Linked DNA regions of Homo sapiens: region 2 is linked to region 1. The links come from fine-mapping of genetic effects on gene expression. A gene starts in region 1. The other region holds a variant in brackets. All regions are shown on one strand. Distances are between the middles of the regions. Region 1 holds the start of NDUFB10 (NADH:ubiquinone oxidoreductase subunit B10). Region 2 overlaps NHERF2 (NHERF family PDZ scaffold protein 2).

What was found. PIP is the estimated chance that this variant, and not a neighbour inherited with it, causes the effect. A credible set is the group of variants that fine-mapping cannot tell apart.
Region 2: its variant is the best candidate, but not a certain one, in a credible set for the expression of NDUFB10 in whole blood (INTERVAL, PIP 0.72).

Annotation. Positions count from the first base shown.
Region 1 is chr16:1,956,896-1,961,144 of GRCh38, forward strand. NDUFB10 (NADH:ubiquinone oxidoreductase subunit B10) reads left to right here and starts at 2,643. Exons shown (of 4, transcript NM_004548.3): 1 at 2,643-2,859. The coding sequence starts at 2,730. RefSeq lists an enhancer at 859-1,700 and silencers at 2,423-2,732, 3,163-3,272.
Region 2 is chr16:2,028,928-2,033,418 of GRCh38, forward strand. It overlaps NHERF2 (NHERF family PDZ scaffold protein 2), which reads left to right. Exons shown (of 7, transcript NM_001130012.3): 2 at 655-855. Among named protein-coding and RNA genes, the nearest start is that of NHERF2, 4.3 kb to the left of the region's middle. RefSeq lists an enhancer at 3,632-4,216. The variant G/C (reference allele first, on the strand shown) is at 2,519.

The DNA.
Region 1 (4,249 bases):
GATACTAAGATTCTAGGCTACTAAAATGTCAAGATTGTTTGGGTCTCATGGTTCATATTTCTTTCCAAGACTTTGGCCAGGCACAGTGGCTCATGTCTGTAATCTCAGAACTTTGGGAGGCCGAGGTGGGCAGATCACGTAAGGTCAGGAGTTTGAGACCAGAAACATGGTGAAACCCTGTCTCTACTAAAAATACAAAAAATTAGCCGGGCGTAGTGGCAGACACCTGTAGTCTCAGCTACTCAGGAGGCTGAGACAGGAGAATCACTTGAAACTGGGAGGAGGAGGAGGTTGCAGTGAGCCGAGATTACGCGCTGCACTCCAGCCTGGGCAACAGAGCGAGAGAACTGTCTCAAAAAAAAAAAAACAAAAACAAAAACAAAAAAAGAAAAAAAAGTTCATAATGTGAAGACCGAACGTTTCTGTGACCGTAGATCCTGTTGTGTCCGGAATTGGTGAGTTCTTGGTCTCACTGACTTCAAGAATGAAGCCACGGACCCTCGCGGTGAGTGTTGCAGTTCCTAAAGGCGGGGTGTCCGGAGTTTGCTCGTTCTGATGTTCCGATGTGTTCGGAGTTTCTTCCTTCTGGTAGGTTCGCGCTCTCGCTAGCTCAGGAATGAAGCTACAGACCTTCGCGGTGTTACAGCTCTTAAGGCGCCGCGCGTCTGGAGTTGTTCATCCTGCCAGTGGGCTCGTAATCTCACTGGCTTCAGGAGTGAAGCTGCAAATCTTCGCGGTTGAGTGTTACAGCTCATAAAGGCACTGTGACCCCAAAGAGTGAGCAGCAGCAAGACTTACTGGAAAGAGAGAAAGAACAAAGCTTCCACACTGTGGAAGGGGACCTGAGTGAGTTACCACTGCTGGCTCCCGCAGCCTGCTTTTATTCTCTTATCTGGCCCCACCCACATCCTGCTGATTGGTAGAGTCCAGTGGTCTGTTTTGACAGGGCGCTGATTGGTGCGTTTACAATCCCTGAGCTAGACACAAAGCTTCTCCACATCCTCACCAGATTAGCTAGATACAGAGTGTCCACACAAAGGTTCTCCAAGTCCCCACCAGAGTAGCTAGATACAAAGTGTCGATTGGTGCATTCACAAACCCTGAGCTAGACACAGAGTGCTGATTGGTGTGTTTACAAACCTTGTGCTAGATACAGAGTGCCGATTGGTGTATTTACAATCCCTGAGCTAGACATAAAGGTTCTCCACGTCTCCACCAGACTCAGGAGCCCAGCTGGCTTCACCCGGTGGATCCCGCACGGGGGCTGCAGGTGGAGCTGCCTGCCAGTCCCGCGCCGTACGCCCGCACTCCTCAGCCCTTGGGTGGTTGATGGGATTGGGCGCCCTGGAGCAGGGGGCGGCGCTCGTCGGGGAGGTTCGGGCCGCACAGGAGCCCACGGAGTGGGGGAGGCTCAGGCATGGCGGGCTGTAGGTCCCGAGCCCTGCCCCGCGGGGAGGCAGCTAAGGCCTGGCGAGAGAAATCGAGCGCAGCGCCGGTGGGCCGGCCTGCTGGGGGACCCAGCACACCCTCCGCAGCCGCTGGCCCGGGTGCTAAGCCCCTCATTGCCCAGGGCCGGCAGGGCCGGCCAGGCTCTCCGAGTGCGGGGCCCGCCGAGCCCACACCCACCTGGAATTCGCGCTGGCCCGCAAAGCACCGCGCGCAGCCCCGGTTCCCGCCTGCGCCTCTCCCTCCACACCTCCCCGCAAGCTGAGGGAGCCCGCTCTGGCCTTGGCCAGCCCAGAAAGGGGCTCCTCAAGTGCCGCCAAAGTGGGAGCCCAGGCAGAGGAGGCGCCGAGAGCGAGCGAGGGCTCTGAGGACTGCCAGCACGCTGTCACCTCTCACTGTTTGTCTGTAGGGTTGATGGTTCTGTGTCGCTGGCCTCAACCTCAGGACAGGACATGACCAGTGTCCCCCCTGGATAGCAGCCAGGGGCCGTGCCAGGTGTGGAGACTGAAGATGTGGCCAGCAGGACCCTGCTCAGTGGAGCTGCCTAGAAGCACCAGAGTGCCCCAGGGCCAGGATGGAACCATCAAAGCCGGCCAGAGGGCCCTGTGCCCAGGGTAGGTGCCTTCTCCCTATGAGCCGCCTAAGGGCAAGCCCTGCCTCCTGGTCTGCTCCCTGCCCTCCCCCAGACAGGCTCCCAAGTTAACTGGCACCAGCCAGTCCATGAGGGGCCCTTGTAGAGAGCGGGGCCCAGAGAAGTCTGTAGGGACTAGGCAATCCAGGAAAGCTTCCTGGAGGAGTAGGGTGTTTGGAATCGCGTGCTATTTGTTCACTTTGTCGTGTGCGCTCTAACGGCCTGTGTTCTCCATCACAGTTTATCTTATTCCCTGCTGCACTCAGCACAGTGCCTGGCGCGCAGTGGGAACCGAATGACCCCCTCCTATTCCTTATGTCAGTTGCCTTTTGTCTGTTTCTTTCATCGTAAGCAGGAATCTGTCCGGTTCGCGGCTGCTTCCCAGGCGCCCAGACCAGCGACCAGCACCGCGTAGGCGCTCGGCACAGACCGAGAACGGAGGCCCCACGCGGGGGCGCCCTGCGGCGAGGCGGGTCCCGGCCGCGCCCGGCGGAGCCGGGGAACTACAAGTCCCATGGTGCATCGCGGCGCCAGCGCGCAGACGCAGCCGCCCTCGGCGTCCTCTGTAGCGGGCGACCTAGGCCGCGGGACCCGGACGGAGGTAGAGGCCAGGGCAGCGCGTCCGGGAGCGGAGTCCGCGCCCGCCGCCGCCATGCCGGACAGCTGGGACAAGGATGTGTACCCTGAGCCCCCGCGCCGCACGCCGGTGCAGCCCAATCCCATCGTCTACATGATGAAAGCGTTCGACCTCATCGTGGACCGACCCGTGACCCTCGTGAGAGGTACGAAGCCCCAGCCCGGGGCTCCCTCGCCGGCCTCTGGGGACCCCTGGATCCCACACCCTGCCTGGATCCTCCAATGCCTCCGGGGTCCCGTCTGCCTGAGACCGCCCCCCGCTGCACCCCGGGGACAACTCCCCACCCCCGGAGACCTCCGAGCTCCGTCGCCTCCTTTGGCCTCCCACTGCACCCCGGACCTCACCTCCCAGGATCCCTTACTCTCCCCTGCACCCCGGGATGCCCCGCTTCTTCCCAGGACTCTTCCCTCCCTGCCGCACCCAGCGCCCACTGCCCCAGGACCCCGCACTGCTCTCCGCCCCCCGCCGCCCCGGGCACCCCTCCACTGCACCGCTGGCCTCAGGCCTCTCTCAAATGTCTCTCTGCCGGATGACCAAGTGTCGGGGTGATGGCCGAGATGCCCAAATTCAGCATCTCTGGAACGAACCGGGAAAATGCCCAGTTCAGTTTTTGTTGTTTTTTTTTTTCCTGAGACAGTCTCACTCTGTTGCCCAGGCTGGAGTGCAGTGGCGCGATCTCGGCTCACTGCAACCTCTGCCCCACCCCGGGTTCAAGCGATTCTCCTGCCTCAGCCTCCCCAGTACTAGGATTACAGGCGCACCACCACCACGCCCAGCTAATTTTTATATTTTTAGTAGACACGGGGTTTCACCATGTTGGCCAGGCTGGTCTCGAACTCCTGACCTCAGGTGATCCTCCCACCTTGGCCCCCAGGTGCTGGGATTACAGGCCTGAGCCACCGTGTCCAGCCTGGTTCAGTTCTTTTTGAACACTTGGGGTGCATAGCATGCTCTGGTGGTTCTTCCGTAAGAGGGTGAAGTCTCCAAATCAAACCCCCAAAGATCTGGAAACCGTGCAACAGCGGACCCAGCTCCCTCTCTTTTGTAGCAGTTGTAGAGCATGTCTGTCCTATGTGTCTGGATGTTCGAGCTCTCCTTTTAGCTCGTTCATTTCCCAGTGAGGAAGCTGAGGCCGTAAGGTGGTAAGTTCTGCTTGCTGGAGGCTCCCTGTTGGAGCCTCTTTGCGCACCCAGCAGGGTCCCTGTGCAGCTGGGGGAGGTGCACTGGCAGAGCTGCGTCCCAGTCCTTGCCATCTGTGAGAAGCAGCTGCCTGTAGGCTTGTGTGGGGGACAGAGTAAGGTAATGCATGTGGAACTCTGAGGATGATGCCTGGTACTCGGGAGCTCTCCATCAGCTGTAGCCTAGGCCTTCACAGGCCTGCCTGGCTGGCCACATCCCTTAGAGAGACGAATTGCTGTTTTCTAAACGCTGGAACACTCAGGAAGTTCTCCTCTCTCCCCTCCAAAGGGCTTATGAGAAATAAGAAAGCTAAAAGCCTGTCCAAACCGATGAGGCATTTGAGTCTGTGGCTTTGT
Region 2 (4,491 bases), 72 kb after region 1:
CGGCTGCACCTGAATCCTGCTTCCCTGGCTGTGTGTGGGTGCCCGAGCCAGGAGCCCAGCCCTTCCCCTCTCTGCAGATCCAGAGGGAATGGGCCCATGGCCATGGCCTGGAGGTAGATATAAGGCCTAGGGTCAGGAGTTTAGACTCCCACACTGCACGGCAGAGAATGACGGGAATGGGCACAGACACACTCAAACTGGGGCCCAGGGAGACACACCTCTCCTTCAAACCTGGACGGAGACACAGACTTTGAAACAGATGGATGCATGCGCGCACAGGGACAGGCAGACTGAAAACCTGAAGGTCCACTGTGCACCATTTTTGTCACTTCCAGACAGGACTTACCCAGCGGCCCTATCCTGCAGCCCCTTCCCAGCCCCGCCTGGAGAAGACCCTGGGCTAAGGGCAAGGCTCTGGGAGCACCCTGAAGCCCTCACAGCCTGGGCCTCAGTGTCCGGAGCCTGAGTGCAGAGGGAGGGAGCCGCTGGAGTCCGGGGGTGGGGGGCGGGGCCGGCAGGCCTCTTGGTGCAGCCACCCGCCCATGCAGACCAGCCGCCTGTCCGCACGCCTGGGCCAGCCCAGAGTGGTGCCACTGCCCATGTGCTGCCCGGAATGTGGGCCACTGACCCGCTCCTATCGCCCATTCGCCCCAGGTGGTGCAAAGGATCAAGGCTGTGGAGGGGCAGACTCGGCTGCTGGTGGTGGACCAGGAGACAGATGAGGAGCTCCGCCGGCGGCAGCTGACCTGTACCGAGGAGATGGCCCAGCGAGGGCTCCCACCCGCCCACGACCCCTGGGAGCCGAAGCCAGACTGGGCACACACCGGCAGCCACAGCTCCGAAGCTGGCAAGAAGGTATGGCGGGCTTGGCCCACAGGGACCACCCTAGCCTCTCCCAGAGGCTCTCTCAGCTTTTGACGACGATCTTTGCCTTTGGTCACCTCCAGAAGTCTTGGTCTCTTCTGCCTTTTGGGGCTCCTTTTCTGCCCCAGGGACCATCTTGTTGGCCACTGGGGGCCACTGTTTCTACCCTCAGCCTGTGTTTTAAACTGGGTAGGGTCAGGGCAGCCTGGCCTGTTCCTCTTCTCCAGGATGCTCCAGAGCCACTTGCCCTATCGAGGGGTCACTCTGACAAGCTGCCGCCTCCCCAGCCCCCAGCCTCGTGGCTGAGGAACCCTGGGAAGAGGCATTCCAGGTCTGCGTGTGCGCAGCTCTGTGCCTGTGCTGGGTGTCATCCGTGGCTCTGTCTTTGTCTCTGTTGAAGGCGCCTGCATGCTGGGAAGGCCTGGGAGAGGGCCGGCCTTCTCCACAGGCAGCGCCGTGGTTGGGGAAGCCTAGGAGGCCACTCTGCCAGGCCTGGCGTAGGTGGGGCTGGGAGCATGGGAGTGGAGTTGGGGGTCCAGGAGGCTCCAGGGTGAGCCCACTCCTCCCCCTAGATACAAGGGAGGGCCCTGGGACCCTGTCTGCTGTTCCTCCTGGACTCCTGCTGGGTAGTACTTCCTCCTTCCCCTGCCCTTGCTCCCAGCCAGGAGACCCAGAAAAGTACAGGGGCGGCCTGCTCCACCTCCTGCTAGGTGGCCGACTGGGAGGGGCGGCCTGGCAGGCCTTGGGGACCAGGAGGAACAGCCTGAAGCTGTCTGTCTTATCTTCCTGGAGGCCCTGATGGCATTATCTCCATGTTCTCTCCTACCTTTTTTTTTTTTTTTTTTTCATTTTCAAAGAGAACCCTGGCCGGGTGCGGTGGCTCACGCCTGTAATCCCAACACTTCGGGAGGCTGAGATGGGTGGATCACCTGAGGTCAGGAATTTTGAGACCAGCTTGACTAATGTGGTGAAACCCCCGTCTCTACTAAAAATACAAAAATCAGTTGGGCATGGTGGGGCACGCCTATAGTCCCAGCTACTTGGGAGGCTGAGGCAGGAGAGTCGCTTGAACCCGGCAGGCGGAGGTTTCAGTGAGCCGAGATCCCGCCATAGCACTCCAGCCTAGGCGACAGAGTGAGACTGTCTCAAAAAAAAACAAAAAAAGGAAAAGAAAGAAATCCCTTCAGGGGATATGAGTCCAGGGGTTGGCCAGACCCCACTGTGAGAACCGCGCTTGGGGCAGGGGTGTGGGATCTGGAGTTCTGAGGGTGCAGGGGATATACACATTCACTTTCTCCCTTTCCCAGACGTCACTGCTGAAGCTGGCTGCCCCTAGGAGCTGAGCCCGGGGGGAGCGGCTTGGCAGGGAGACAGCATTCCCTGTGGGGAGCCCAGCCTGGGCGCAGGCCTGCCCGTGGGACCTGTGGGACCCGTTTTGTTCCTGGGGCTTGAGGGCGGGCCACAGTGGTGCTCAGGGCCAAGGTGCCCAGCCCAGGGCTGGTGGGGGGGCTGGCCTTGCAGGGGGGCTGGCTGGTCCTAAGCCCCTGTCTCCAGGCTGAGGGTTGGGGCCTCCCTCTTTCCCAGCCACCTTCCCTCCCCCAGGAGGAAGCTCCCCCTCTGCCTCAGGCGTTTGTCCATTGATTTGGACACAAAC[G/C]CATGGTTCACCTTCCTGTGGAAAAATCCGGCCCTCGGACTTTATCTGGAGGGTGCAGTGGCCCAGGCACCTTGCCTTGGGTGGGACCTTCCCCCTCTGCTATTTCAGGCTCTGGGGGCTGCAGGAAGCCCTAGGAGGGGCTTCCTCTGGGTGTATTTTTAGAGGAACAAAGGGTGGCCTGAGTGGCAGGTCCCTTTGTGCATGAGTCTGGCTGGGGACAGGGGCTCCAGGAGGTCAGGGGGCACCCAAGGAACAGGGTCTCCCCTTCTCTCTTCTGGCATCAAGACCTGAGGTTTCTTTTTCTTTTTCTTTCTTGGCTCACTACAACCTCCGCTGTCTGGGTTCAAGCGATTCTCTTGCCTCACCCTCCCCAGTAGCTGGGATTACAGGCGCGCACCACCACACCTGACTAATTTTTGTGTTTTTAGTAGAGACGGGGTTTCACCATGTTGCTCAAGCTGGTCTCGAACTCCTGATCTCAGGTGATCTGCCCTCCTCGACCTCCCAAAGTTCTGGGATTACAGGTGTGAGCCACTGTACCCGGCCCCTGAGGTCTGAGGTTTCATTTCTTTCTTTCTTTTTTTTTTTTTTTGAGACGGAGTTTCACTCTGTCGCCCAGGCTGGAGTGCTGTGGTGCGATCTCGGCTCACTGCAAGCTCCGCCTCCTGGGTTCAAGCAATTCTTATGTCTCAGCCTGCTGAGTAGCTGGGATTACAGGCGTGTACCACCACACCTGGCTAATTTTTGTGTTTTTGGTAGAGACAGGGTTTCACCGTGTTGGCCAGGCTGGTCTCAAACTCTTGGGCTCAAGTGATCCGCCTGCCTCAGCCTCCCAAAGTGCTGGGATTACAGGTGTGAGCCCCTGCGCCTGGCTCAGGACCTGAGGTTTCTTCACCTGAGCTCCCAGCATGGGCAGGAAGAGGTGGGCCTCACCTGACCTCCACAGAGCAGGCTCAGATCCTGCCCTTCTCAGCCTGGGTTCAGGGCATGCCTCAGATGGTCAGGGAGCCCAGGAGGGCAAAGCTTACCTTGCGGGGATGGCTCCAGTGGGGGCACTGGTGGCAGAGAGGCAGAGCTCTGGAAGGGATGTGTGTAGTTTGTCTTTGGTGAAGGATGGAGAGGGCCCAACTTTGGGTGCCCCCTGGGAGCTAAGGGTGGCTCTCAGTGTCCTCTGTCCTGGCTGGGGATAGGGGAGGTGGGCAGGGGAGGACACTGATGTGGTTGGCCCCTCCTTTTGGGGGCCGTGAAGGCCTAGTTAGTGATGACTCAGCCCTGGGCCACACCAGGCTGGGGGTGGCCGCAGCTGCAGTGCAGCTGATCCTAGTAGTGACGACAGGGGACAGCCCCCAAACAGAGACGGGGTGGCCAGCGGTGCCAGGCCCTGGAGGTGGTGGCAGACCCTGAGCCCTCTGCCCCCTGCCCCTAGCCCATGTCTCCACCCCCATCTGGAGGGCCTTGGGGGCTAAGAGCAGGTGTGAGGGGTGACAGTTCTGCGGGAGGCGGCTGTGTGGTTGGGGCGCGGTGCCTGCGGGGGCTTCCGGGCTTCCCTGGCTCTTGCTCCTCTGGAGCCTCAACAGGACCGTCCTGTGTTCTGGGGCCGGGACTCCTCCCTGTCCCCTCAGCCCTGGGTCCTGGGGCAGGGCAGGGCCTTCCAGCAGCTTCCTTCCTTCCTTTCTTGGGACGGAAGCCTAGCTGGGTGGGGGGCGCCAGGCTGGAGCCTTCGCAGGGGAGCGGGCTCAGTCATCACCCTGCTCCCCAGAGTGACTCAGCCCCCACGTCCCCACCCATCCCCGGGGAGCCAGGGCCGCAGAGGGAGGTAGATAAGTGGGGTGGCAGCCTGGGTCGGCCAGAGAGTTCAGGCCACCCCGGCCGGACGCCTGCCACTTGCTGTCACTGTGCCGCTGTCATGGCACGCTCCGGGAGTGCCACGCCACCTGCCCGGGCTCCGGGAGCCCCTCCACGGAGCCCACCCC